4 linked regions of the Homo sapiens genome follow. The protein of the gene in region 3 interacts with the protein of the main gene of each other region in a pairwise test. Each region holds a gene or a part of one and is shown on either strand. Other genes may lie near its edges.

The links.
Region 1: the proteins of NCALD (region 3) and TPSG1 interact in binary tests that used the Homo sapiens proteins (3 or more experiments, as listed by UniProt).
Region 2: the proteins of NCALD (region 3) and SRGN interact in binary tests that used the Homo sapiens proteins (3 or more experiments, as listed by UniProt).
Region 4: the proteins of NCALD (region 3) and ANOS1 interact in binary tests that used the Homo sapiens proteins (3 or more experiments, as listed by UniProt).

Annotation. Positions count from the first base shown.
Region 1 is NC_000016.10:1,220,961-1,230,701, forward strand, and holds TPSG1 (tryptase gamma preproprotein), read right to left. Parts: upstream 4,293-9,741; coding exon 4,247-4,292; intron 3,669-4,246; coding exon 3,642-3,668; intron 2,635-3,641; coding exon 2,463-2,634; intron 1,958-2,462; coding exon 1,692-1,957; intron 1,382-1,691; coding exon 1,236-1,381; intron 1,137-1,235; coding exon 828-1,136; 3' UTR 691-827; downstream 1-690. Other genes in the region: CACNA1H (voltage-dependent T-type calcium channel subunit alpha-1H), read left to right, coding at 1-34; uncharacterized protein LOC124903621, read left to right, coding at 4,291-4,601, 5,494-6,280; TPSB2 (tryptase beta-2 preproprotein), read right to left, coding at 7,690-7,854, 7,940-8,103, 8,231-8,496, 8,606-8,777, 8,931-8,991.
Region 2 is NC_000010.11:69,084,219-69,091,102, forward strand, and holds the start of SRGN (serglycin isoform 1 precursor), read left to right. Parts: upstream 1-3,884; 5' UTR 3,885-3,939; coding exon 3,940-4,018; intron 4,019-6,884. UniProt on the Homo sapiens protein: Plays a role in formation of mast cell secretory granules and mediates storage of various compounds in secretory vesicles. Required for storage of some proteases in both connective tissue and mucosal mast cells and for storage of granzyme B in T-lymphocytes.
Region 3 is NC_000008.11:101,684,836-101,691,159, forward strand, and holds the end of NCALD (neurocalcin-delta), read right to left. Parts: intron 4,572-6,324; coding exon 4,474-4,571; 3' UTR 1,707-4,473; downstream 1-1,706. UniProt on the Homo sapiens protein: May be involved in the calcium-dependent regulation of rhodopsin phosphorylation. Binds three calcium ions.
Region 4 is NC_000023.11:8,526,994-8,534,153, forward strand, and holds the end of ANOS1 (anosmin-1 isoform 1 precursor), read right to left. Parts: intron 6,061-7,160; coding exon 6,002-6,060; 3' UTR 1,881-6,001; downstream 1-1,880. UniProt on the Homo sapiens protein: Has a dual branch-promoting and guidance activity, which may play an important role in the patterning of mitral and tufted cell collaterals to the olfactory cortex. Chemoattractant for fetal olfactory epithelial cells.

The sequences.
Region 1 (9,741 bases), on a different chromosome or scaffold from region 3:
TGCCCCAGGGGGTGGTGCAGATGACCCCGTGTAGCTCGGGGCTTGGTGCCGCCCACGGCTTTGGCCCTGGGGTCTGGGGGCCCCGCTGGGGTGGAGGCCCAGGCAGAACCCTGCATGGACCCTGACTTGGGTCCCGTCGTGAGCAGAAAGGCCCGGGGAGGATGACGGCCCAGGCCCTGGTTCTCTGCCCAGCGAAGCAGGAGTAGCTGCCGGGCCCCACGAGCCTCCGTCCGTTCTGGTTCGGGTTTCTCCGAGTTTTGCTACCAGCCGAGGCTGTGCGGGCAACTGGGTCAGCCTCCCGTCAGGAGAGAAGCCGCGTCTGTGGGACGAAGACCGGGCACCCGCCAGAGAGGGGAAGGTACCAGGTTGCGTCCTTTCAGGCCCCGCGTTGTTACAGGACACTCGCTGGGGGCCCTGTGCCCTTGCCGGCGGCAGGTTGCAGCCACCGCGGCCCAATGTCACCTTCACTCACAGTCTGAGTTCTTGTCCGCCTGTCACGCCCTCACCACCCTCCCCTTCCAGCCACCACCCTTTCCGTTCCGCTCGGGCCTTCCCAGAAGCGTCCTGTGACTCTGGGAGAGGTGACACCTCACTAAGGGGCCGACCCCATGGAGTAACGCGCCCGGCCCCGATGCGAATCAGGCCTCCCCTACATCTGGGGGCGTTGGCCGCGAGATTCCCATTGACACCTTTGTTTCGTGTGCTTTTAAATTCAGGTTAAATGTTGCAATAATCTGATGCAGAAGACTCAGCTTCTCAAGGGAGAGGGAGGGGGCGGAGCGGAATAAATAGTAACTTATTTAAGAAATGCACTTGGATTCCTGCCATCAGTCAGGGGCGGGGAAGGGAGTACCATCCGCAGATGGGTGCAGCAGGCACTTGGCCAGCAGGACACAGGAGACTAGCAGAAGGAAGAGGCCGGGGAGGAAGAAGCCAGCCAGGAGGGGGAGCCTGGGGTACCCAGACTCTGAGCCCCCTGATGCTGTGATGTGGCGGCGGATCCAGTTCACGTAGGCAGGGACACGAGTGTAGACTCCCGGCCTGTTGGGGCGGCCGCAGCCCTCACCCCAGCTCACAGTGCCAGCCTGCACCCAGGCACCGTTCACCTGGCAGACCAGAGGCCCCCCGGAGTCGTCCTGAGGACAGAGAAGGCGAGCATTGGGAGCCGAGAAGATGGGGAGCCCCTCCCTGGGCTTCAGCCGCCCCCATCCTCTGTCACGGCCTGGCAGGCTCACCTGGCAGGCATCCCCGGGGCCCCGGGCACACAGCATGTCGGGCTGAAGGATGCTGCCCCCGGGGCCGGGATAGTCCCGGCGGCAGGTCTCTGTGTCCACCACGGAGACTTTCACCTCCCGCAGGCTGTACGGGGGTGGCAGAGGCTCTGGGGTGGGGGGAACAGGCTTCAGAGAAGGTTGGGGCACCAGGCCCTGCACTGGGGGGATGGGAGACCTTGCCAGACACAAGTCCCATGCCACCACGACCCTCGTCACGGCACGTGGGTTGTGATCTGACGTTTGGCTGCTGCTTTGGATCCACACGACAGGCTTTGAAAAGGGACAGCCGATAGGGGCGGCCTTGGCTGGGTGTGGAAGCCACCAGGAGCAGGTGGTAGCATCAGCATCCCTCAAGCCAGCTCTCTTCCTGCCGCCCTTGCCTTCCTCCATCCCAGCATCCCCACGGGGGCTCCTCACCTCCCTCCCGCGTATAGCCCCAGCCGGTCACCCAGCACCGGATCCCAGGGCAGAAGTCATCTGAGGCCTCCGGGAGGCAGACGGGCAGGATCCGGCTGGAGAGGGTCACGGGGACACTGAGCTCCACCAGGGCGATGTCCCCGCTGGTCCCCGGCTGTCCTGAGGGGCTGGAGTGCAGGATGATCTGCCTCACGGTGGAGAAGTGGGGAGACAGAGTGATCTCCAGTTCCCCCAGGTGCACCTGGTAGTCGGATGAGTTCAGGGACCTGGGAGGGAAGGTGGCTGGGTGAGAGGGGCCAGCTGCGGAGGCTGGAGGTCAGTGTCGGCCCCGCCCAGACCCTACCCTTGCAGGCATCCGAAGCCCAGCTCTTCCCTCCTAGGCTTGGGACGCAGAAAGCCTGGGCAGTGGCCTCACCCTGCAGGGCCCAAGGACCACGGCAGCACCTTGGGGTTCCTGCCAGCCCCTGGAAAAGCCAGCAGCATGCCCGACACCAGCAGGGGCTGGTCAGGAGGCAGATTGCAAGCTCAGCTCCACGTGAAGAGACCGAGGGGAGGGAAGGAGGGAGGGAGCTGTCCATCCCTAGAGGTGAGCAAAGAGCTGCAGAACCTCACAGAAGGTGGGCAACCAGCTCCTCCCTTTCCATTGGAAGGAAGTAGGCTCAGAGTTCCCAAGCCTCGGAGTGAGTCAAGACCAAGTGGAGGCCTCTGCGCTGGCGCATGCCCCACTGGGGCCTGGACATTGAGACTGCCCCTGCCCACCCGGACACTCACCCGGAGAAGCAGTGGGCAGCTGTGAGCACCCACTGGGGGCTGAGCAGTGACCCGCCGCACACGTGCACCCTCCGCAGGCGGAGGCTGGCCTGCCATGGCCATGCGCCGGCCGGGGCAGCGTGACCCCCCACGATCCGGCCGCCTGCATCCGAAACCTGCGGCCGGCCACACCCTAAGTCGAAGGAGGAAGGGGTGCCTGGTGGGGATCCCAAGAAACCCACTGCACTTCCTCCATGAAGCCTTCCCTGACCACACCTCCCTGCCTTCTTGGGGACTTTGCTCTTCAGCTCTCTCGTCTGCCAGACTCTCCCCAGAAGCATCGTGGGTGCAGCAGAAATGACGTCTCAGGAGCAGTGAGCGCGCCTGGGGCTCAGGTCGTCCTTTCTAAGCACCATGCTCCACAAACTAACCAGGGCTCCCGGAGGCGGTGGAAAGGCTGCAGAGGGCCCCTAGGCGGCTAGAAAGGGGCTCAGAACGGTGGAGCCCCCGAGAAGGCCCGGGGTGCTGGGGGTGGCTGCCTAGTGGGCCCCGGTTTTCCTTCAGGGGTGGTGGAGATATTCGAAGCTGGATAAAATTCGGGGGGCGGGGGGCAGACAGCACTGTCCAAGGTGCTCGGGGCCTCTGAATTGGACGCTTGATAATGTAACTTTATCTTCTGTAAACTTCACCTCAGTAAGTTAAGAAGAAATTAAGAGGAAGTCAGCTGGAGACCCACTGGCCACACCTGGGTCTGCCTGAGCTGGATAATTGTGCTGGTGATGGAGTGTGGCCACTGGGCTGAATGGAAGGGAAGCTGGGATGTAGACAGACAGAGATGTTTATAGATAGGCAGCGGGTGTGGGGTGGGGCACCGGCTCTCCCACACGGCAAAGCCCCCAGCTGGTTCCAGGGCCACGGTGGGGACGCTGTGGGGAGAAAGTTCGAGGAGGGCCAGGTTGTTTCATGGCCTCAGAGCATCTCCCAAGGTACAGACTGACTACAGTGGTGGTGGGGGAGACAGCCCTGCAGCACACCCCGACCAGCCCCACTCAACCGAGAGATGCGAGCAGAAACCACGGCGACAAACTATGACCTCCCCGGGCCCCCATTGGGACCCCAGGGAAGGAGAGGGTCACCGAGGCCCTCCTGCCAGGCCTTGCCTGCACCCTCCCCCACACCCCACACCTGTCAGAGACGTACCTGGCTGCAAAGTCCTGAGGGACACACCTGTGGGAAAGACGAAGGGCCCAGGATGGAGGGGGCTGCCAAGGAGAGGGGTGTGCGGGCTCCAGAGGCCCCTGCCAGGCCTCAGGGCGGCACTGGGGTGGGGCCTGGTCCTGAGCAGAGGGGCCCGGCCTGGTGAGGCTGGGTCAACTGCTGTCTCACTGGCCCAGGGCTGGGTGGGACAAGCCACAGGCCATAAACGGCAGCTGGAGGCCGGGAGCTTGGCCTCAGGCCTGGGCCTCCTCCCCGCCCTCCAGGTCCTGCTCAGGAAAGAAATCACCAGTGTTCTAGGGCCTGGGACTCCTGGCACCCCCAACTCCCACCCGCACCCCCAACTACCACCCGCCCTGCCAACTCCTGCACCCCCAACTCCCACCCGCACATCCCTCCTGCCTCTCCCCAGCACGGACAGCTGGGCCTCCAGCCAGGGGTGCAGTCTCTTCAGAGGAGACACGGGGCCCCACAGGGTGGGGACTCAGCATGTTTCTCCGTCTCAGACCAGCCCCCAGTTTCACCCCCATCAGGGGTCCAGGCAGGAAGCAGATGCCCCCCCATCCCCACACCCAGGCCAGGTCACCCACCGGGCACAGCCAGGAGCAGCAGGAGGCCACAGGCCCCAAGGGCCATGGTGTCTGCCCACTGTAGGGAGAAGGAGGGCCAGCCTGACCCTTGGACCTGCTGGGCGTGGGGGATAGGGGTGGCCACACACCTGCTGTCAGGCAGGGCGGGAGGACGGAGGAGGAGGCCGGAGCTCCACAGACGGCCCCACCTGTTCCTTCTGCACCTCAGAGAAGGGTCGTCACCTCCATTTATCCCTGTGTGGACGCCACAGCCCTGGCACCAAGTGGCCGGCTCCGTCAAGGGAAAGCGGGGAAGGACAGAAGGCAAAAGTACTTCTCACCTTGTCTCTGCTCCGGGGCCAGGGCTGAGGGAGGGGTGAGTGTTCCTCTGAGTGCCGCCCCCTCCAAAAATTACTCCCTGGTTCCCTCGGGGCACGCCACCCCCTCTCCTTCATCCTCTGGGAGCCCAGTCCTGGGGGTTCTTCAGGAGGGTCCCAACTCAAGGCCCAGCAGCCCTTTGGAGACAGCTCAGGCCCTCGTGACAACCACTCTTTGAGAAGTCCCTGTCCCCACGTCCGGCAGCAGGTCCTGTGCTCGTGCGGCAGATCAGATGGGCACCACTTCACGGCCCAGCCTGGGTTGGCCCTTCCTAACCGTCCTGGCTGCCCCAGCCTGATGACTCAGCTGATTAGGGGCCCTGGGCAGCGCCCGGGACTTTCCTGCCGCCCTCCCCAGATCCAAATCACAGGCCAGGCTGGAGGGTCCAGCTGAGACCTTCTAGGTCAGGGATCCCCTCTTTGATGTGGGGAAACTCAGCCACGGGTTGGGGGGAGTTGCCTGACCACCCACCAGGATGTGGCCTCCCAGGCACAGACGTGGCCGCCTGCACGCCAGCACGTGGGGTAGCCAAGGCTCAGAACTGGAGGTTCAGTGTTTTTCCTGGTGACCAATAAGGACAACACCAGCATGCGGGGCCAGCAGTGCACCCACGGCCGGGCACCCTCCTCCCTCACGGCAGCCGCACACCTGGAGGGGGCGCCTCAGGGGAGGCAGGACAGTCCCACCCCACACAAGGGAGCGGGGTCTGAGCCACGAGTCCCCGGCCCAGGGTGCCCCTAACAGGGCGATGTCACCCAGTGGGGAGGGAGCCTGAGGGGCAGGGTCTTCATGGAACCAGGTCCTCTAGTCCTGACCTCTAGGGCTGTCCCCAGGTCCCCACAGGTGGGGACTTCAGGGCCCTCACCTGTCCCAACTCAATTCACCTGCAGCACTGGGGACCCCGTCTTTCTGCCTGTGCCCCAGCACGCCACTCCCCGCAGAGTGCTCCACACGACCCAGATTGCAGGCCTGCTGGGGAGGAAGAAGCTTCAGGCACCATCCCCTGAGCCCCAGCAGTCCTGTGACATGGTGCCGTTCACCCCCACCATTGGACAGGAGAGCCAACTGAGGAACCGGGAGGGGGGCCTGGCCCTGGTGATTGCCCCCAGCTTGGTGGGGTCTCCTGTTGTCCAGGACCCTGGGAGACCTGGGATTGCTTCTGTCTGCGGTGGCCTGGCCACCTGGGTGCCGTCCCCTCGGTGGGAACCCTGTCCCCCCCACTCGCCCTCCGCCTCACACCCCCCTGTGACGGGGAACCAGGGCCTCCTGCCGGCAGCCACGTGGGTGACCTTGGAGCAGGTGCCCCCGTCCCAGTCAAAACGCAGGTGGCTGCAGCCCTGGCCAGCAGCCTGCCTGCCACGTCCTGAGAGACCCTTCCTGCTGAAGCTGACGCTCACATCTGCCAGTGTCACTGGGCTGAGCTTCACTGAGCTTCCCAGGGATCTTAGATCTAATTTGGGAAGCTCTGGGGCTGGAGCCCGCCCTCCCCCTCCACCCAGTGACCGGCCCCTGCTGTCCACCTTTCCTTACACCGGCAGCCCTGTCCTGAGGGGCCGTCTTGCTTCCCTTCGGGGTCTCATCCCTCCGACTCCCACCCCGCAAAACCTCCAGTGGGCGTGTGGAAGTGCTTCTAGGGGCTCAGTGTTCCCTGGGGGTCACCCCGTGCTGTCTCTGTGATCCCTAGAAGGTGGGATGGGCCAGAGGGAGGAAGAAGGGCCCGAGTTCCAGGTCCATCTTCATTAACAAGACGCTGGGCCTGCAGAACAGGAGCCGAGGGATGGGCCTTCAGGGGCTGCAGAGGCAGAGGTCACGTGGGGCTGGAGAGGGCACTGGGAGTTGAGTCCACCCCTTGTGAGGACAGAGGTCATTTGCAGAGATTCGGGAGACTAAATGCACATCTCTGCATCTAACAGTTGGAAGGAAAGAGTGAATGTTTCTTTAGAGAGTTGTTTTCAACCAGAACAGCCCCGCATTTCATTCCTGAGTGTAATCATGTTCAAATATAAAATGCAAACAAGAGCCCGGGATAAAATGCAACACTCGCCAGACGCAGAGGGCTCACCTATTGATGTAGAGAAAGACCTCAAAATGAATTTGAAAATGTCAAACTCAGGCCGGGTGCGGTGGCTCACGCCTGTCATCCCAGCACTTTGGGAGGCCGAGGCGGGCGGATCACTTGAGGTCAGGAGTTCGAGACCAGACTGGCCAACATGGCGAAACCCCATCTCTACTGAAAATACAAAAATTAACTGGGCGTGGTGGCTCACTCCTGTGGCCCAGCTATATGGGAGGCCAAGATGGGAGGATCGCTTGAGCCCAGGAGTTAAGGCTGCAGTGAGCCCTGATCACACCACTGCACTTCAGCCTGGATGACACAGCGAGATCCCGTCTCAAAGCAAACAACTAGGCAAAGCACAAGCAGTGGACGGAGGGGCCGGGAGAAGAGCTCGTGGGAAGCGTGGGGTAGGGGCTCGTGATGGGCAGCCCTGGGGCTCCCGGTGACCATTCTCTGTCTTGACCCGGTTGCAGGGACCTGGCTGTCCTTTATAATCAACTGAGTTGCCCGAGTGGCTCTGTGTGACCCGAATGCTGGATGCATCGTGTGGGGAGAAGCCAGCCTCGGGGACCAGGGCTGCCCAGGAGGCCCCGTCCCACGGTGACTGGCTGTGCCTTGAGGGCTAGGACCTCACACTGTGGCAGGTGTCCTCAGCACACCTGGACCCCTTCTCTCCCAGTGACATCCACAACCAGAAACACAGCGATGCACACCAGTGATTTCCATGCACTTTAATGAGGTCCAGCACTCAGGAGGATTAGCGCCCACCACCAGCTGCCTGGGCAGGGGAGGGCCGGAGGGCCCGGTGCAGGCGTCAGGCTTAGGACAGGGAAGGGGGCTCAGGATGGGGAAGGGTCCTCAGGACAGGGGAAGGGGCTCAGAAGAGAGCAGGGGGCTTAGGACAGGAAGGGGCACTCAGGACGGGGCAGGGAAGGTGTGGGGGGCAGTCGCCACCTGGGTAGGAAGCAGTGGTGTTTTGAACAGGAGGGGCTGGCTCTCCAGTGACCCAGGTGGACACCCCAGGCCTGACTCACGGCTTTTTGGGGACATAGTGGTGGATCCAGTCCAAGTAGTAGGTGACACGGGTGTAGATGCCAGGCCGGTTGGGCTGGGCACAGCCCTCGCCCCAGCTGACCACGCCCGCCTGCAGCCAGGTGCCATTCACCTTGCACACCAGGGGCCCTCCGGAGTCGCCCTGGGAAGGTCAGAGGTCAGCGCTCGCCGAACAGGCCTGGGAGTGGGGGTTGGGGGGCGGGGGGCGGGGGACAGGCGGGGCCCACCTGGCATGAGTCCCTCCGGGTGTTCCCGGCACACAGCATGTCGTCACGGACGATGCGGACGTCGTCTCCCGTGTAGGCGCCAAGGTGGTATTTTGCGTCACAAATGTGGTTTTCCATTATGGGGACCTTCACCTGCTTCAGAGGAAATGGCGGTGGGAGGCGCTCTGCAGGTGGGGAAGAGGGTGCAGCCTCAGGAGGGGGCCGGGCAACCCCCACCTGGAGCCCAGAGGGAGCCCAGGGGCTGGGCTGTGGCTAAGACCCTGGCCCCACCTCCACTGTCCCCAGACCCACCATCATTGTCCACATCGCCCCAGCCAGTGACCCAGCACGGCATCCCCGGGGGGAAGGTCTCTGAGGCAGGGGGCAGGGTGACCGTGTGGACGTGGCTGGAGACGTTCACCGGCTCCTCCAGCTCCAGCAGGGCGATGTCCGCTCCGATCTGGGCGGTGTAGAACTGTGGGTGCACGATGATCCTGCTGACCGGCAGCAGCTGGTCCTGGTAGTAGAGGTGCTGCTCCCGCAGTTGCACCCTGAGGGCGGCCAGATCCTTGACGTCCCTGGGCAGCGGAGGATCCCACTCAGGGCCCTGGGCAGCCCCCAGGAGCACCCGGGAGCCAGGGCTCACATCCAGCCCTTCCCCACCCTTCCAGGCCCCGGGAGACTCACGGTCCCACGCAGTGCGCTGCGGTCAGCACCCACTGGGGGTGGATGAGGGAGCCCCCGCAGAAGTGCATCCAGTATCGGTCGCGGACTCTCAGGCTCACCTGCCAGGGCCACTTGCTCCTGGGGGCCTCCTGACCCCCAACGATGCCCACTCGCTGCAGGGCCTGGCCTGGGGCTGGGGCAGGTGCCAGGTCAGGACCAGGAAGCAGCCCCAGGCCTGGGCCCAGCCCTTCCCTGTGTGGGGGCCAGCCCGACCTCCCCAGAACCCACCCAGGCCCTGACCTGTGGAATGTGGTGAGGGGCAGGGTGGACCCCGGCTGGGACTCACCAGGGGCCGCGTAGGCGCGGCTCGCCAGGACGGGCAGCGCCAGCAGCAGCAGATTCAGCATCTGGGGAGCAAGGAGGAGCATCGTGGGCCTGGCCGGGCCTCACAGGGCAGGGCTGGGGGCTACAGATTGTGGGGTGAAGAATGGAGCTGGGACGGGGGGACCGGGGTGGGTCCAGGCCTGCAGGCCTGGGTCTTGGTGCTCTGAGTCTGAGGCTGGGCCACTCTGCTCCAGGTGACGCTGATGTCAGGGTCTCTGAGAGTGGGGACTTACCCTGGCCGCTCCCTGTTCCTTCTACCCAGTGGGCTCTCCCCTCCCCATTTATGCTTCCAGATCAGGAGGGGGCGGAGGAGGGGCGCTGGGTCCTCCCATCCAGACTCGGAGGAAGTGGATGACTCAGACCCAGGGCCCCCGTGTAACACGTGCCCCCGCCACCCCGATGCCCTCTGTGTGTGGGGCTGCCAGGCAGGCCCCGCTGAGGGCTGAGCACTGGAGACTGGCAGCTCCACCTGTCAGCTGGTGGATCCCAGCACTAGAACCCACCACCTTCCCGCTGGTGGGATCTGCTCCTGCCCCTGTCTCGGTGCCAGGAGGCCTTCAGGCATTGCTGCACCCAGGTGGCCTGGCTGTCCCAGGCTACAAGACCCATCGCTCCTGAAACCTGTTTCCCCAAGAGGGACACGGGGTGAGGAACTCATGTCCATGGGCCACCCTCCAAGAGACGGGAAGGTGCCCACGGGGTGGGGACATGACGGGTGACACCCCTCTTACGGACTCCGAATCCACGGGGGTGGCGCCAGCCCTCCTCGACTC
Region 2 (6,884 bases), on a different chromosome or scaffold from region 3:
GAAATGCTTAGCATGTACCTCTACAAGAAAATAACAAAAAGGACTTCTGATTATTTACAAATCTTAATCTTGCTTCCCCTTCATTCCTCATCTATCCCAGGGCATGGATTAGGAAGCGTGAGTTCTAACCCTGGTTTGCCCCTTGCTAACCGTGTGAGCAGAGGCAAATCATTTAACCTTTCTGGACTTGCATTTTTCTCACCTGAGTGAGGGAACTAGATGATTTCTAAGATCCCTTCTAGTTCTAGAAATCAAAAATTCATGCAAGGGCCGTCCTTCAAGCCTCTAGAGACATACAGATTTGGTGCAGTATCTATTTACTGGTTTTTGTTTGTTTGTTTGTTTGTTTTGTTTTTTTGGTGCAGTGCCCAGTTCAGAGTCAAGACCCTCTCAATGAAGAGCCAAGCAAAAGTCCTAGAGGCTGCTGGTGGCGGAATCTTTAACCTGGAGCTTTAGGAAAGAAATAGGCCTTGGAGCTTCCCCTTTGTGCAGTTTCATGGTGCCCTCTGTATCTCTTCTCATAACCTCAATTTATCATTTTTTTTTTCTTTTTTTGAGATGGAGTCTTGCTCTGTCACCCAAGCTGGAGTGCAATGGCATGATCTCTGCTCACTGCAACCTCTGCCTCCCAGGTTCAAGCAATTCTCCTGCCTCAGCCTCCTGAGTAGCTGGTATTAGAGGTGCCCGCCATCATGTCCAGATAATTTTTTTGTATTTTTAGTAGAGACAGGGTTTCACCATGTTATCCAGGCTAGTCTCAAACTCCTGACCTTAGGTGAGTGATCCGCCCACCTTGGCCTCCCAAAGTGCTGGTGTGAGCCACCCTGCCCTGCCGGCGACCCGTCACTTTATTAAACAACAGGAACTGATTTCTGTCATGTTCCAGGTGACTGTTAAGGAATAAGAATACTCATTTTATGGGCAAATAAACTGAATGTGAAGTAAAGTAGGTGCATCTCAGGTTGCCTGGTGAAAGAAGGATTAAGTCTGGTATAGGGTTTGTCTTTTAAAATTGTGGAAAACATGCATATCGTAGATTGACTTTTAGGGAAAGATGTGGGTCCTATTGGGTTAATGGCGGAATCTTTTGGTAAGATCATGCCCAGCCCTGAGGACTGTTGCCAATGCCTCCCTCACCACGTGTGCCATGTGCTCTTGAGGACATCCTGTCATTGGCTTCCCACACCATCATTACATCTGGAACAAAGGACGCATAAAAAGTGAGTGGCCCAGCGTGGCTCAGCTGGTAAGTGAAGGGCATGGGCTTGGACCCAGGACTTCCAGCTGCTGCAGCATGTGTCCTGCTCCCCTACAGCTTGAAGAGGGCTAAATGAGACTGGAGGACTTCTTAGAAAAAGAGACTTGATTATCAGCGTAGTGGGAGAAGAGCAAATGCTTATGAATACTGCACCTGTGCTTTAAAAGTCACCATGAGCTGGGCGTTGTGGCTTACGTCTGTAATCCCAGCACTTTGGGAGGCCGAGACAGGTGGATCACTTGAGGTCAGGAGTTCGAGGGCAGCTTGGCCAACATGACAAAAACCCCATCTGTACTAAAAAAAAGAAAAGAAAAGAAAAGAAAAGAAAGAAAGAAAAAAAATTAGTCAAATGCGTTTGCTTGAACCCAGGAGGTGGAGGTACACCCTGGGCGACAGAGAGAGAGAGGTAAAAAACAACAACAACACCATGACCCAGAGAAAGAAAGAAAAAAAATGAAGTTCCCAAATGGAAAAAGCCCCTAAAATTACCATTTTAAAACACAGCCCTAATCAGCTCTGGGGATTTGCAGGAAACTCATCGAAGCTATTGATAGGAACTATTGTTTTGGTGCCAGGGTTTTCAATTGGGAGTTAGATTTAAAAGGACCAAAGATGACATCTGATATTTCAAACAGAAACCGACATTTCTCAGTGGAAAACTTTCCGGGCCAGTGCATTTTGGGGTTGGTTACTGTGCTTGGAGACGCCCCTGAGTTGGAGGACACACTTCTGGCTGATGTGAGGGGCTTCTGAGGAGGGCCAAAATGTACACTCTTTGTGTTCTTGCACCACGGCTATTAGACTGTGAGACTCTGTCCTTAGCAGGAAATGGTAAAGGAATCAGCAGGAAGCCTAAAACAAGGGAAGGGAAACTCCTCCCTCCTATCAAAGGCCAGGCAAGGGCGAGGATGAGAATGGAAAGTGGGGCACGTGCATTAAGCCGTCTGGGGGAGCGGTAGGGATAGACATGTTGAAATGGAGAGTGGTTGAATCTTGAAAGGAAGTAAGGAAAATGTATATGCCACAAGGGCAAGGATGTATGATAGGCTTGTATTTATTGTATAACTTTATTTTATTTTATTTTATTATTTTTAGTTTTTTGAAATAGAGTCTCTCTCTGTCACCCAGGCTGGAGTGCAATGGCACGATCTTGGCTCACTGCAACCTCTGCCTCCCGGGTTCAAGCGATTCTCCTACCCCAGCCTCCCGAGTAGCTGGGACTACAGGCACTCGCCACCACGCCCGGCTAATTTTTTGTATTTTTAGTGGAGACGGGGTTTCACGGTGTTAGCCAGGATGGTCTCGATCTCCTGACCTTGTGATCCACCCACCTCAGCCTCCCAAAGTGCTGGGATTACAGGTGTGGACCACAGCACCTGGCCTTTATTGTATAACTTTAATATGGAGCCTTAGTCCTCCAGAAATCTGCACCATGCCCAGGGAAAATGCTGTTCCTTTATTTACATGAGGCAGAGGTTTGTGTTGTTTGCTGAGGTCCAGCAGCTCACTGTGAGGACAACCTCTCCCTCGTTCCTGATTTCTGGCTTATTCAAGGCCAGAGGACCCAAAACTCGAGTTGAAAATTTTGACTAGGAGAACAGATAAAAATAGAAATGGAATCCATCTTAAGAAATGCTCAATGTGAAGGAGAGGGGAATGCAAAATAGTTTTTCTGTTTTACCACAGTCTTTGTAACTGAAAATCCTATGTTCTTGAGATAGAGAGAGAGCCAATGATCCAATGCAAGAAACTGAGTTTAAGAAGAAACTGTTTGCTGGGCACGGTGGCTCACGCCTGTAATCCCAGCACTTTGGGAGGCTGAGGCAGGCGGATGGCCTGAGGTTGGGAGTTTGAGGCCAGCCTGGCCAACATGGTGACACGTCGTCTCTACTAAAAATACAAAATTAGTCCAGCGCAGTGGTGTACGCCTGTAATCCCAGCTACTCAGGAGGCTGAGGCAGGAGAATTGCTTGAACCCTGGAGATGGAGGTTGCAGTGAGCTGAGATCGCGCCACTGCTCTCCAGCCTGGGTGACAGAGTGAGACTCCATCTCAAAAAAAAAAAAAAAAAAAAAAAAAAGAAGAAAAAGAAGAAGAAGAAACTGTTCATCTGAAATCCGACAACTCATTCTTGAAGGTTAGAGCTCAGCTTTGAAGTTTCACTTCACGAGCTTGGCTCAGTGAGGTATGTTACTCCCCGGTGAAAAAGAAAATGAAGAGAATGTTTTATGTTGAAAGTGCTTGGTGACGAAAAGGCAGCACCTAGATCCCTTATCTCATAAAAAATGCAGCAGATTCTTAATATTAGCAATCTAGTGTTTAGATTGTTACCTGAAGAAAGGAAAAACAAACTGTCCCAAATGCTGATTCTACTGTTTCGGTGGGAAAAAAAAATGTCTTGCAGGCAAGTGGCAAACAACAAAACTTTTGAAAAAGCAGGCCTGGGGGGAGTCCAGTACAGTTTCATAATGGGTATGAATAGTTATTTTACTGTGTTCCCCCCACCCCCTTTCTTTCTGGGTTTTGATGTGGATGTCTTTCTATTTGTTCAGGAAATTGTGACGTGTGTTCTGGGCAGGGTTTGAGGTTTTGGAACATTTTCTAAAAGGGACAGAGAGCACCCTGCTACATTTCCTAATCAAGAAGTTGGCGTGCAGCTGGGAGAGCTAGACTAAGTTGGTCATGATGCAGAAGCTACTCAAATGCAGTCGGCTTGTCCTGGCTCTTGCCCTCATCCTGGTTCTGGAATCCTCAGTTCAAGGTAAGACTCAGGAGTCTTGTTCCCCAGCCATCTTCTCTGTAAGCCCTGTGGTCCATGCAAGTCATTATATTCATTTTAAGGCATAGAATGTATAATATTGTGAGAAAGGAGGCAAAGAAGAAGGATTTGGGGTCGCTGAACCCTTTAATATGAGTTCTGTTAAGTTTGGTACCAAGAAAAATTAAACTCTGTGGCGTGTGCAGTCTTGTAAACTCTTACAATGATTGAAATGTGCTATTTTGGGATGAAAATGTGAGGTTTATAAATTTTAAAAGCTCAAAAAAGGAATCTAGAAAATGACTCCTGTGCCTGTTGCATGGAGGAGATGGCACCTTTGACTGTTGGGGGGTGTCTGCCTACCCCTAAGTGTCTACATCAGCCCCAAGTTTTAGTGCGCTGTGACGGTGTCATTGTTATTTTAACACTGGGAGACGTTATATTCCAATTGGGGTGAATCTGACTGTGTGTATTTTCTTTTCTTTTTTTTTTTTTTAAAGATAAACTTGGTTCTTACTGAAAACTCAATTATGGTTAGACATAGTTCATGTAAAACCTCTCAGATTTTAAAGAGAAGGCCAAATAATTTGGTATTTGTGCTCTTGCTCAGAGAAGCATCATATTCGGAAATATCTTCCTAGGTTTATCTACCATTTAGTGTTGTTTAGTCAGACTGAAACAACTTAAAACCTGTAATGACTAAGACAATGAAAATGATAGGCTTGTAAGAAAAATACAATTTGTTATTCTTTGGCAAATAAGGAATCATGTCTAAATAAGACGGAGGTCATGGCTTGATAGAGAGATGGCTGAACCTATAGTAGAAAAACACTAGGTTCCGCCAAATGGTAAGGGAAATGTTGAGTCACAATGACACACATGTCCTAGATTTGTTTCGTCAAAGCGACTTTTGGTTGTCATGATCTTACTTCCGGTGGAGATGAAATCTTACAGATGATCGCAGAGACATTCATTTTATGTTGGAAATTTATAAAATCATTTTCTTCTAGTTATGCTAATGCTGAAAAAAGAGCAAGTAATGTTTCTGGAACGTTATTAATTTATGTATTTTTAAAATATAAAACATTGTCAATTGTAGGGAACAGGCTTCACTGGGATCTTTTAGGGAATATCTTCAGCTTGATGAAATAATTCCCGAATAGCCAAGTGGTCTGACAAGATCGAGAGTAATGAGGCCCATACTTTAGTACAGTCTTGAATGGCCAGATGGTGCTGGGCATACCCCAACCAGAGATATGTAAGTCTTTATGTTGTCAAAATTTCCCAGAAACATGAATTTCCCACTAAGATTCATTAAGGAAAACTAGAATGAAAACAAAAACGTTCCTTGTATAATATTCATTAGAAAGAAATGAAGAAGGCCGGGCATGGTGGCTCACGCCTGTAATCCCAGCACTTTGAGAGGCCAAGGTAGGCAGATCATGAGGTCAGGAGTTTGAGACCAGCCTGGCCAACATAGTGAAATCCCGTCTCTACCAAAAATACAAAAAAATTAGCCGGGCATGGTGGCACACACCTGTCATCCCAGCTACTCAGGAGGCTGAGGCAGGAGAATTGCTTGAACCTGGGAGGTGGAGGTTGCAGTGAGCTGAGATTGCACCACTGTACTACAGCCTAGGTGACAGTGCAAGACTCTGTCAGAAAGAAAGAAAGAGAGAGAGAGAGAAAGAAAGGAAAGAAAGAAAGAGAAGGAAAGAAAATAATTCATCATGAAATTGTATAGAATACTAGCATTTATGTCATGACCTCGTAGGTTTAGCTCTTTGTTAGAAAAGGAAACCATAGAAAGAGACAAGGGAGAAACTGACAAACTAGGGTGTTTCCGAAAAAAGGCTCTCAGTATCGGGCTCAAGGGCTTGTGCCCACATCTGAGCATGCAGGGAAATAGATGTCCCCCACTGGCTGCACATGTGAGTGACTGCGGCACAAGGCTGTGATGTGAAGAGTCGTGACACCATTTCCTCACACCTCCACGCAATGCCAGATATGATTCGACAACATTCTTCCTGTCTTATAAAAAGTGTTTATCTAGCCCGTTGGTTTGGCAGATGAAATCAACTAGGCTTTTGGCTTGCTTTTACTGAGCATATTCAAAACCATTTCAGGTCACTATAGTGGTTTGCTCGGGTTGCCATAACAAAGTACCACGGACTGAGTGGCTTAAATAACAGAAATGTATTTCCTCACAGTTCTGGAGATGGGAGTCCAAGATCAAGGTGCTGGCAGGGTCGATCGCATTCTGAGGCCTCTCTCCTTGGCTTATAGATGGCGCCTTCTCCCTTGTCTGCACATGGCCTTTCCTCCATGCATCCGTGTCTTAATACCATCTTCTTAGAGGGTCACCAGGCATTGGATCAGGGCCACCCTAATGGCCTCATCTTAACTACCTATATCTGCAATGACCCTATTTCTGAACAATTTCACATTGTGAGATTCTGTGGGTTAGAACTGGAACATATGAATTTGGTGGTGGTATATTTTTATTATAAGTCAAACCCAAGTAAAGATGTGGGGTAAGATTGTGTTTACCAAGCACAAAGAAATGGAAATTTGGGGATGTGTAACTCTGGAGAGCACAGATGACTAATCTATTTAATGTAGGGCTCCAGGGGATTTGATGAGGCCTGTGAATCTTCCACTTTTATTGCCTCTCTTTTCCAATGACACCCATAAAGAAAAAAAATGGAATATCCATGAACAGGTGCAGCCAAGGAGGCCAGGCCCGCCATGTGTCCACTGTATACTGTCTCCTAGCTCACAGGAATGATACTGATCCACTCCTTGTGCTGCTCTTTGTAAAGTGATTTCACATCCATTCTCTGGTAATCATCATCACATTCCCTGTGAT
Region 3 (6,324 bases):
AAATGCAAATCAAAACCACAATGAGATACCATCTCACACCAGTTAGAATGGCAATCATTAAGAAGTCAGGAAACAACAGGTGCTGGAGAGGATGTGGAGAAATAGGAACACTTTTACACTGTTGGTGGGACTGTAAACTAGTTCAACCATTGTGGAAGTCAGTGTGGCGATTCCTCAGGGATCTAGAACTAGAAATACCATTTGACCCAGCCATCCCATTACTGGGTATATACCCAATGGACTATAAATCATGCTGCTATAAGGACACATGCACACGTATGTTTATTGTGGCATTATTCACAATAGCAAAGACTTGGAACCAACCCAAATGTCCAACAATGATAGACTGGATTAAGAAAATGTGGCACATATACACCATTGAATACTATGCAGCCATAAAAAATGATGAGTTCATGTCCTTTGTAGGGACATGGATGAAACTGGAAACCATCATTCTCAGCAAACTATCGCAAGAACAAAAAACCAAACACTGCATATTCTCACTCATAGGTGGGAATTGAACAATGAGACCACATGGACACAGGAAGGGGAATATCACACTCTGGGGACTGTGGTGGGGTGGGGGGAGGGGGAAGGGATAGCATTGGGAGATATACCTAATGCTAGATGACGAGTTAGTGGGTGCAGCGCACCAGCATGGCACATGTATACATATGTAACTAACCTGCACAATGTACACATGTACCCTAAAACTTAAAGTATAATAATAAATAAATAAAAAAAAAAGAGAGAACCACCAAAGCAAAAAAAAAAAAAAAAAAAAAGGGAAGGAGGTCCATTCTTTCAAAGGCAGTTCTTATGCTCTCCTTTCTACCTTGACTGAGAGAACACTTGGACTCTTCCTCAGCTGGTGGGTACCGAACTAGGATGTGTGGGGACTCAGTTGGGTTGGGGCAGCAGAACAATGTCCTGAAAATAGGAGCCTCAGGTTTGGAAATTTGCTGAAAATTCCCAGGTTGCTGGTAGGCAGGCTCCTGATGAGATTGGAGACGCCCAGCCACCTTCTCAGGATCAGACTTGTGTTATTCATGCTCAGGACTCATGGTGTCAGGGCCATCACTGGTCCATAGTGGCCAACTGTGTGCAGTAGGAAGACTCCCTCGAGGGCAACTCTGCCCCCACACATGGTCTAGTTGGCCCGTGAAGTTCTCCCACAGCTAACACTCAAGTTAGCAAGATGGCAGCTCCTTTTCTCTACAGTAACGGCCTCCTGTGCTGGAGGCAAGGCCAATGACAGCAACAGCCAACACCATGATTGGAACTGGCTTTCAGAGTGTAGGCTCTGCCTCATGTCATCTTTTTCACTGAACCTTCTCAGGCTGAGAGGGGTGAAGAGGTTATTTATTTCCTGAAGCTTACCCAGATCCCATTGAAGGGGAGGTTGCCTCAGTTTCTCCCTTTATTGTACCTAACATTTGGACTCTAGTTTGAGGAAGGAGAGGATATGGGAAGGAAGTGTAGACCATGGAGGGAGGGATGTAAGGAAGCCCATATGAAGACCAAGGATGCCTTTGGACAGAACTTTGGGGTCAGCAGCCTCTCTCATCCCCCCTCACAAACCTTGGTTCCTTGTGTCACTCTAGGCAGGAAAAATACCCAGGAGGAGGCTAGTATCAGAAGCTAGAGCCTCAGTAAGGCACAGATTCAGCTGGGGCAGCAGTTTAGGCATGAAAATCTCATGAAAATCATGTTAAACCAAAAACATGCTTTAATGCCAGGCAAGAGCTACACAGTCAACTGATTTACGGGCCACTCCATAGGCTATGATTTATAAATTATATATTATTAAATCCACCGTGGGCATACAGATGGGATGGGACAGCACCCCCAGCTCCCTCCCACTCTGAATGATGTATGAACAGTTGAGCACTCTGTAGAATCCTTCAGGTCGTAAGCCACTTTATTCCAGTCCCTTGAACATCACAGGCTGGTTTTATTTGGGACAGAACAGGTTTTATTTCCAAAGGTCCCTGAACACAGCAATGACAATGAACAGCCCAGCAGAGGAGTGACATAAACCTTGAGGCATGCAGTCTTCTGGGTGCTGTGGAGTCCCTTGGCCAAACTTGAGTGCACTGGATTCGACATACAAAGACCTTCCTGGGAAGGAGAAGGAGAAAAACAACCTCCGAGAAAATACAGACAGGGTCAGTGGCAGGCCAGGACAGGGACTATTTCTATACATTCTGGAAGTGTCGGCATTCATCAGCCTGCATGTGGCTCACTTTTCTTTCTGGAATAGCCGGAGACCTCTACTCCTCACTCCAGCTCTAGGTTCCAAGGAACAGAGTGGGTCTGGCTCAGCGAGATGTCATGACTAAGGGCAGAGCCCAGGCAGGTTTCTCAAAACATTAACTGATTCCACCTACCAAAGGAGAATCAAAGGAAGGAACTAGGACTTCGATTCAGAGCAGGGAAAAGTGGGATGCAGCTCCTGAGCACTGCCAATAGGGCATGCTAGGTCTCCTCACCCAGTCTGCCTTCTGTGTCTTAGGTTAATTCGCTATTTTCCAAACACAGATTTTAACACTTGGCCATGGAGGAATTTGGCAAGTTTTGGTACAGAACCACTGTGAGGAACTGACCCCTGGAGGAAGACTAGGATTATTTTTACAGAGTCTAGGTCTCAAAATTTCACCCTATGGATTTGGTTCTTTTTGGTCTACCATACAAATTTGGATTTCTGCTGCCAATTACAGCAGACTCAAGTCATATATAAAAACCTGGAGGTTAGCATGTCTAGTCACATTTTTCTCCTGGTCATGATGTCTCTCTTTCTGTGGTTCCTCTTCTTTGGCAAGTGGCTTGGCAGCAAATATACCCACTAGGGACCTCTCTGCCTTCTCTTAGTGGCAAGTTCCCCATCAACAACCTTGAGAATTTGGGCCTCCCTTTGCTAACTACTTGCAAGAGTATGACTCGCCTGTAACCAGCAAATTTTTACTCTTAGCTTTCAATTCAAATTAGTGTGTCTGAGGTCACCAGACCAAACAGCAACTCAGACTTGTGCTGTCACTTCTGGAAATAGAAGTCTGCATTCAAAGAGCACGGCAATGGAAAATACTTTTGGATTCTCCATAGGGGGGCCTTGGAAACCACAGACACACTTGCCCATGTCTTTATGATGAATTTGATGACTGCCCAACCTCTGATTCTTTAACAGGGGCAGGGAAACTGAATATTCCAGACCTGGCTCCCTAACCATGCACATAGATTAAACCACTGGGAAGTTCCAAGAATGTATGTGATGTTTTTTCGAGTCTGCAGAGTATTGATCTGCTCAGAAAAGCACCATGCCGCCAGTCTAATGCTGTCAATGGGCTGCTGGGCCTGAGAGGGAAACCACCCTACTGGTCCCCTGTCATACATGTTAACATTCCTGTGCTCCAATTGTCCTGTCCCACTACCACCTGCTCTGCATCTGCCCTCTAGGCATGGCCACTCTGGAAATGCATTCAAAATTAAAGTTGGGCCCTAGTCAGGGTTACTTTGTATTTTTATGGAATATATAAAATATACTTGTCGATTGGTACATTTGTGCAAAGACAGATATGACTTCCAAACAAGACAGACATTCATTATAGTTGTCTTACTTCACAATAAGCTACTAAAAACAGTCTTCTGGAATAAGATTGTATTAGTGCTCACTAAACATGCATTTCATTTAAACAAGGCAAAACACTTAATTTGGTCTGCATTACCCAATATGTTATATACAGCCGTCTTTTTATTTTATCACAATAGGCAACAAGATGGGTCTGGTTTTGGAATATGTTACCATTTGTGTTTAATTTCCAAAGACACGCATATTAGCTCAACTAGTGTAAACCTGTGAAAAAATAGCTGAGCCATCTTTTTCCTCTCCTCTGTTAATTTATCTTGAAATGTTCACAGCTTAGAAACTACAGCCTGCTGGGGAAGAGAGGGGAGTGGGCCCCCATGGGGAAATGTCCCAGCTCGCTGGAATAGCCTCACCCCAGAGGGTAACTTGTTCTTGGGGAATCCAGCATCCGGTGCCATCCATCACCCCTACGGCACGTGTGACAACAGATTCAGGTGGGGAGTTTTGTCTTTCAAACAAAAGCCCCTTGAAGCTTGCAATAGAATCACAGGACTGGATGGGTTTCCCTTCTTTTGCCCCAACCCCCGAGTCTTACGTTTTAGAACAGAGACATTAGAATAAAAAAAAATAATAGTAACGATTAAAAATCATCAAACAATGAACACCACGAAGTCTGTCCATGCTCTCCACAAGCACACTGGGGCTCTGGGCATTCCCACGAAGCATCCACGACAAAAGAAGCTGAAGGCGTCACGGAGGAAGGCGCATCAGACCGCACAGGGGACGGCATCACCATTGATATTGTTTGGCAAAAAAAAAAAAAAATTGTTAAAAAGAAGAATCAAAAGGGAACACAAGCAGCTCTACAATTCGATTGGTGGGCGCAGGGCTCAGAACTGGCCGGCACTGCTCGGGTCGCACTGCAGGAGGCGCACAATGGACGGGTCGCTTTTGGCTCCTCGGATGAACTCTTCCAGGGAGAGTTTTCCTAGGAAGCAAGAGGACAGGTGAGTGGTGGCTGGTGGCAGCTGCATGAGCTTACACCCTTCCCACTACTGCGTGCTGGGCAGTGTCGATTCACCTGCCTGCAGCCTCACTGCCACTGTGACACACAGCACTCACCTGTCCCGGGGAAGAGCCCAGTGGAATCTCCAGGAACACTGCTGCCTCATTCACCATGGCATTGCCAGCACTTAGGACAGTACATGTGGCAATCAAACGCCGCTGCCTGAGAGCCCACTGTGTGCCCGGCCCTGGGCCCGGGACTGGGGAGAGGGTGGTGGATGATGCTGACTTGGTCCCTGACCTCCTGGCTCCAGGCGCCCTGGAGAGGCTCACTCAGCATTTGTAAAGCAAGTGGCCCTCCTGCATTTATGAGAATGAGCTGGGCCCTGGCAGCACCCGGTTGGTTCCCATAATGTTCCCTGGAGCCTTCTGAGCCACTTCGTGTTCTTCAGGCCACTCTGTGTTCTTAGGTTTGCTGCAAGAGCCCATCCTATCTTGGGGAAGAAGCCGTGGACGTAAGTGTTTGTTCATACACCACGGGAAGACAGCTGTGCCTCCATCTGAGGTCAGGGAAGAGCAGGGTATGTTCAAGGCAGAGGGTAACCCATGGGTTTCTGCCTCTCAGTTAGGGTGCTCTCCTGCTACCCTGATGTGCTGGAGGAGGGAGGCTCAGCAGCCTGGGCTCCCACTCCGACCCCGGTGACCTTTCCTTTCTGCTTACTCTGGAGCACGTACAGAATTCTCTTCCAGGAAGGCCTGTCACTTGTGGAGAGGAGGGGAGGGGGTGGGGTAGGAGTTGGGGGACTGCAAGGCTTTTCCCATTCCTGGTGCTTCCAGAAGGACCCTTCCTCTTTGTCTACCCCGCCCCTGGGAGTGAAGTGACATGCTCGATTGGTAAATTTGGGAGGAATTGCTGGGCATCTCCGCCCAGCTTTGCCCTCCCTTTTTCTCTTGAAAGGAGCTGCCCCAGAGAGGATTTATTTCCATCTGCTCCTCCAAGGGCAGCACCCGGCCTGCCTGGCTCTGCACGCCTGTGGGTTTTTCAGCACGTCCTTGGACTCTCACGCTAAGCCATAGCCTCCAGTATCTATCTTTTGACCTCTGTCCTCTTTTATTTCTCAACTTACTCCAAACCTGACAGGAGGGGGCCTCCCCCAACAGAAACACCAACAAACATATCTTCTCCTCAGCCACAACTCCCTCCCCGCCAGAACCTAGTTCTTGTTTAATGAAACCCACTTTATCTCCATGAAGGAAAAAGATAGGGATGCATTTATTAATTTATTTTTAATTTGTAGAGCTGATCCCCTCCAAGCTCTGTGTGCTGGCCATTTTTTATGAGCCCAGCCCTGCCCACATAGTAGTTACAATGGTAATGACTTCCTCCAGCTTGGCAAGGCATGAGGGAAGGGAGACAGGCGTGATCTCTGAACACTTTGCAGTCTCTCAGGGGTCGGCTCTGGGAGGCACCAGCTGGAGGTAGCAGGGGCAGACCTGGAGCTCGGCATGACGTCTGGCTTTCTTCACTTAACTGTCTGCATGATTCAGAGTTGGCTCCTAGGAGAACTTGCCTGAGGGCCCAGATTTTTCTTTTCAAATCGGAGGCCAGAAGTTAGATTCCAAGAGCAACAGGCAAGCTAAATCTAAGGGTAGGAGACTCTAGGTGAGGACTGCTCTGCTCTCGGCAGGGAGGGGTGCAGGTGTCCTCAATCCTGGGGTCCAGCAGCCAAGCACTG
Region 4 (7,160 bases), on a different chromosome or scaffold from region 3:
TTATTGCAGCCTTCAAGCCCGATCTCTGGGTCAGTAGCCCCAGCCTCTCTGATCTTTGATGAAGAATGGAGGTTGGAGACCAGTGTGAGGTGCCCAAGCTGTGCAGCTGATTGGCTGGGTGAAGCCTCAGAGAATGAGTGGATAAGAACTCCCAGGAAAACTCCCAGGAAATTCAGGCCTCAGGGACTGGGGAGGGTCAAGCCTGGGGCCACTGGCATGGGTGCTCATGCTGTAGGGTGGCGGCAGCAGCCATTGAAAGAAATCAAAATATTTCACCCCCAAATAACCCTTCTTTGACATATTTAGAGATGGCTGTTCAGAGGGCCTGAAAATAACAGCCCTACAAAGCTGTCTTTTGTGGGGGAAATTGGCATCTGTAGATGTAGAGAAAATCTGCATTGATGCATTGCTGCAGCCAGGCTTTCTCTGACACCCACTCCCTGCCCCCGTGTCTGGATCTAGGAAAAATTAACTAAAAGCCTAACACCTTTAAGGTCTGAAAGAAACAGTCACCATCTATTCTCTCTAAAGGCTGCGACCTGGGAGGTTTCATCTGCGTAACAAGACCACCTTTGCTAGTCAGGACTTCTCTTCTCTCCCTCCCATAAATTGTGTTGCCAAGATCCGAGCCCCCATTCTTTCTGTAACTTCAAGATGGCATAAAAGCGTCAAGCAATCCTCCACTGATAGCCTTGATAGGCTGTTTCCATACCTCTACTATTGTGAATAGTGCTGTGATAAACATGTATCTTTTTCATATAATGATTACTTTTTCTCTGGGTAGATACCCAGTAGTGGGACTGCTAGGTCAAATGGTAGTTCTATTTTTAGTGCTTTGAGAAATCTCCATACTGTTTTACATAGAGGTCATGTTAATTTACATTATGACCAACAGCATATAAGTGGTCCCTATGTACATAATGGAGTATTATTCAGCCATAAACAAGAATGCAATCATGTCTTTTGCAGCAACATGGATGGAATGGAGGCCATTATCTTAATTGAAATGACGCTGACACAAAAAGACAAATGCCACATATTCTCATTTATAATTGGGAACTAAATAATGTGTACACATGTACATAGAATGTAGAATAATTGACAATAAACACTTGGAAAGGTGGGAGGGTCAGAGGGTGGGAGAGTGGGAGTAAAGAGAAATTACTTAATGGGTACAATATATATTATTTTGGTGAATGCCCTAAAAGCCTTTATTTCTTATGCTTTTTTTTCTTAGGCATTTTTTCCAATTCATCAGCAATTATGGGTCAATTGCATGTCAAAGTGGGGATGTACAAGCCTCTCAAAACTCTACTTAGATAATGGAGATTTAAAGGCTTATAGTATAGTACGTAGTATTGAAAAACAATTGAGTAGTATTGAAATACAGGTGAATGCTTATTGGCATTGCATATATCTACAATTTTAGGAGTAAATATTGGTGGCAAAAGAAAAACAGCTTAAAATTGTATATCCTTGACTTAATATACCACTAAAACCATCAGGAGTTACAATTGTAAACATGATGATAGAAATCTGAAGTGTTGGTTGTCAAACTCCAAGATACTTTCATTAGGATGAAGTGCTGTCTTGTTAACATTTACCAGACCTCAAATTCCATTAACACTGACATGGAAAGAGACTTTTTGAATCTCCTTGGCAGCAGGAACTGTCCATTTTTCCTCTTAAATTCAATAAAGTTTCTTTTCTTTTTTTTAAGTTTGGAGACAGGGCCTTGCTATGTTGCCCAGGCTGGTCTCAAACATTCAGGACTCAAGTGATCCTTCAGATTCAGCCTCCCGAGTAGCTGAGACTACAGGTGCATGCCACTGTGCCCAGCAAAAATGTTTCTTTAAGAAATAAATGAGTCGACTCCTTGGTCTGGTTTAAGGATACTTTATTATTGAACCAGTATGTACAAACTCTAACATGAAAATAATGAGTCACAGAATATCAAGACTATTTACAATACTTTTTTGTTTTTTACAAAACATTTTTACAAGATTACTTCTCTCTAAATAATGTGACAGACATACACAAAAATCCAACTTTTTTTATTACATACATAAATAAATATTGACTTTAAATGACCACTGTAAGGGACATGAATTCTACAGACCACTTGGATGAGAAGGTAGCAGTTTTGTTATCTGCACACTACAATATAATTAAGTAAAGGGGAAAAGTAACTTTATATAGACCTCTGTTAATCACTCCGTAAATCATATAACTCACTAGAATATTCAGTAGAGGTAAGACAGTCATGAGAATCCTCTCCGTACCTGACACCGAGTCTGACCATGCAAAATCACAGGTAAGAGTCAACATCTTTATATATCTGTTTATATTTTATAATAAACTTTAAAGTACATGCAACAGATATTTAGCCATTGTGTTCTGCCTATAATATGAAAGTTTATATAATAAGTTTTAGAGTTATTTGCAACCATAGAAATGAGTAAACTTGAAAACCCACGGCATAAGAAAGGGCATTAAATAAATAAGTCAAAATCACAAATGACATTTACGGATACATAGGGCAAAATTAGTATTTGTACTTGTATGATACAGACACGAGTCAAAATTCCGTCTTTTAATCAAGTTGTTTAGTGGACATAAAAAACACAGTTTAGGCCTTTGAAGTCAACCATAATAACTTCTTAGCTGTCCCTTAGTTTTTGGGACTTGCTCTAGAAATTCACTGGGTTTCTTATAAAGGGCAAATTCAGTAAAGATCATTCTCTAGCAATGGTTCTCAACCAGAGGTACCATCCCTCAAGGGGTAGCTGGCAATATCTGGAGACATTTTTGGTTGTCTCAACTTGGGGGAGGGTGCAACTGGCATCTGGTGAGGAGAAAGTGTGGATGCTACTAAAAACCTACAGTGCACAAGACAAACCCCCACAACAGAGAACTATCCAGCCCCAAAAGTCAATAGTGTTGAGGTTGAGATGAACCTCTGTATACAGTCGGCTATGTATCTAAGGTTTTCAGGACACAGATGTATTTCTAATCTTTGAACTTCGTTTAATACACATTACAAAAAATTACCTGCCATAAACCTTATCTTCTCTACCATGTCATATTAAAACAGTGAATGACTGAAAAGAGCACATGTTGGTTTGCAAACATCATTCTATGGAGTTCCAGGTAGAAAAACAGGGTAACACAGATAAATTCATCATTAAGGAGCAAATGTTGTAAATAAAAATAATGCATGTAACTGCAATGTATGTCAGATTAACCACCTGTATTTGATGACAATATTTTTGATGAGCTCAATTTTTTAAACAGTCAATACTATTACTGGATATATTTTTCTCACATTAGAGAAATGAATCTAATTTCAATAAAACATATTACAGAATTAGGCACCAAAACTATGTTTGTTAAAAAGCATAGATTTTATTCTTTATTAGAGCAATCACATTTTTAAAATTCAAAAAATTATAACTATATTTTTGATCATTTGAATAATACTGGAGCTTATTAAAATCCATAAGAGAAACACATGTTTTTTATTAGCCCATTAATAGCATTTTTCTTCCAATAACACCAATAAAATTTAAATTATTTATTTATATTAAAATTAGAAGCCCATAAGAGCTGCTTTAGATTTTTTTAAGGGAGATGTAAGCTTCAGAATCACCATCTGAACTAAAAATATCTGTCCAATGTCTATTACCCAGACAAAAGAAGCATGATTAAATTTTATAAAATTAAATTTATGTAATAATTTAATAATATTTTGTATCTATGCAGAGACTCCCAGCATTTTTAACTATGCAACAGTACAAAAATTTGCTGGCATAAACATTTGAATTTGTTCATGACAAGTTCATGTAAAAGATAAATGGATAGCTAATAATGAAAAATTTTAATTTTTGAAATTTTAAGAACTTGAAATTCAGATGCTGGTAATGACACCAGAATAAAAAAGAGAAGCTATCTATGGTATCCATTTATTCAAGCTTAGGGATGTTTTCAAATGAAGATTGTTTTCTATTTTTGCCACTCAAAAATTCTTAGAACCAGGTAATTTCATAACTCAATGTGATAAATCCATCCCAGCTTGTGACAGGAGCTGCAGTGAACCATTCAGAACCAACATGAACTTTCATTCTGAGGTGTCCAATTTATGTTACTTGTACAAAGCTGCAAAACATTCCTGGAATATCCACTTTTTAAATATTTTAACACACAGGAAATGGGTTTCAATATCTATTATCAGGTATCCATGTTTATAAATGTGTTTCCCAAAGACATGCATCAACATCAGAAAAGTTATTTTCCCTGCATTTTAATTTGCATCTACCTTTAGACACTGCAGTGAGGCTCTGTGGAGTACAGTGACTTCTGAGTTATCCACTCTTCCCAGGAATGGCCAGGCATCTGCATGAATTCAGGAAACAATAAAACAACAAGAAGCAAGTACCATTGTCAAAACCTAAGGATAATGTTACTGATTTTCTTCCTGTTTTACTTAGGTAGGTAAAGACATATGGACACCTTTCTTTTACAGTGTTTAATTTTGATAAATTGCTCTTTTCTCAGAATCAGCATTGATGGGGAAAATATATTATCCTTATGACCTTTAAAAGAGCTGTATCTTTACTCACCATTGGTGAGCTACGAAAACGATTTCTCCAGGGATTCATGCTCAAGGTATATTCATGTATATGCATGTGTCTGTGTGTATATACATGTATATGTACATATATTTGCATATATATACACATGCATTTATAATTATATAGACATGCATATCTATGCACATTTCAAACCATGTATGTGAGTATTCCTTCAAGAAAAAAAACAGTATTAAATTAAACTTCTCTGCGTTTTAGGTTGTTACAATATACACTGCAACACTCTATATTGATAACACGTTTTGACTTAAGTTCATGCTACAAGGCACTAATTTGTAGCATAAAACATTTCCAAAAAGTAAGATATACTAGATTTGAAAGCATATGGGTGAATTAAATGCAAATAACTGTCCTTCTCTATCAATCAAAGGAATTTTTAAAACATTACCAATAATATTCTAGCACACAAAGACCTTTCTTTGATTAAGAAAAGGCAAATCTCTGCAAAGATTTAAACATGCTCAATAGTTGGGATTTTTTCATTTGAAGCAAGAAGTTTTGTGAATTTTCAGATGGTGAAACAAAAGTGCACCAAAAGCTATTATCTGCATTGAGGAAAATAAGGGAAAATATAAATAAGATAACATATCAGGAAAATCTCTCACATAATAGGATCAAATATTAAAAGGCATCCCCAAGAAATAATTTTCATTTCTCCAAGGTAAAATCTGATTAGCAGCTTATTTCATTGAGTTCCTCTGGCTTGGGTGTCTTTTGTAAATCATAATTTATAGAGGGAACTTTGATTTACCTTTGCATAAAGAGCAGCACAAGGTACTTAAAGTAGGAGCATTTTTAGATTTAAATTCGCTGGTATATTTTAGATTACACATTTTCATTTAAAAATCACCTAGGATAAAAATGATCTTAGGAAAGATTCAAAAAAACAAAGCTGTGTAATCTTAGTTGATTTTTCATATCGAATCAATAATTTAGTCAAAAATATATTTTATTGATTAGATTTACGCTTAGTGTTATGTGTGAATTGTGTATTTGTTACTCTCCTTTTTGGGGCGGAGTTTGGTGCTCCAAATTCAGGGAAAACTGAGTTCTGTTGTAATTCAATAGAAATGAGCGACACCATACATGAAAACAAAATTTAGCATTAAACAGGCCTATTCTTCATTTTCTCCATGCTTGTAGGGAACTGGTGTCTGTCTTCACCAATCTACTGTTTCTCACTTGTCTCCAGATGCGTCCATGATTGACAGAAGTTCTTCCTGCACTAAAGTCACATAGGAGAGTCCGGGCCTCTGAGCAGTTCCCACTGCCTCTGGAAGTGTGCATGTCTCGTGGCCGAAGTTCAACAAGCTTACACATCTGTGCAATTTCACAAAATCTTTTTGAACAGTTTAGTATCTTTCTGGAGAAGGCTTGTAATGATGTGGATGACGATGCTTAAGATGAGATCCTAAAAAGTGACAAAATATGTCAGTCACATCCATTTGTATGTATCAAATAAATGATAGAATTACCTTTATTTGTAGAAAAAGCACGAGACCCTGGCAAATGTTCCTTCCTATGACCATGTCTTTCCTATTCTGAATCTGAATGTACAACCACACTCTTTCTCTCCTTTTCCTGTTTTTCTCTTCCTCTTTGATGTCTTCCCAAACTATAAAATAACAAGAAAAAGAAGACAAGCTCCTTTCCTTAAGCTCACACTTATCCAATCAAACCATAATCCTTTTTTATTTGCTCAAAGAAGTTTAAAAATTATCAAATACTTCTGTTAAAAGGAATTTCTATGAAGGAATATCAGAAAAGCATTTATCTGACAAAAATTTTAGAGGCTATCAAGCTCTCCCATTGTGATAGTTTTTGTTTTTCTTCAAATTATAAGCATACCAAGTTATCAATTATAAGCATACCAATCTATCATTTAAAAAAATCAGAGTTAAAACTATGACTAATTCTCAATGTTTTGTCCACACACTAGTCATCAGACACTTTTTTAAAAAATTTAAGCTAGAAAATAAAGTAAACGAAGTACATAATTTAAAAATCAGCAAGAGGCTGTTTTGAAAATCTAGGTGACAATTTTCTTTTTAAATTTTACTTGATTTAGCAATAAATGAAGTAGGTGGACTTGGGTCATATCATGAAGAAAATTCATAATATTTATTACAGTAATATCTATGTAACAAGAACATAAGTTCCTTAGCAAAATATTATTTCCTATATTGTGATATATGAAAATCTTGATTTAAAAATATTTCAGATATGAGACTACAGATTTTTTTCCCATATGTATTTATGGTTTAAAAGACAAGGAAAAAAGCATGCATTACATAGGGGAAAATGCAAGGAAGGAAAAAAAAAACAAAGGAAGGATAGAGGAAAGGAGAAAAGAAGAGAGGGAAGAATGAAGGAGGGAGGGAGAGAGGATGGAGAAAGGAAACAAGGAAGGAGCAAAGAAAGGGAGAAAAGCGGGGAAGAGGGAGGGAGGGAGAAAAAGAACAATTAAGCATCAACTATGCAATGTATACTACAGGTGCCTGGAATAGAATC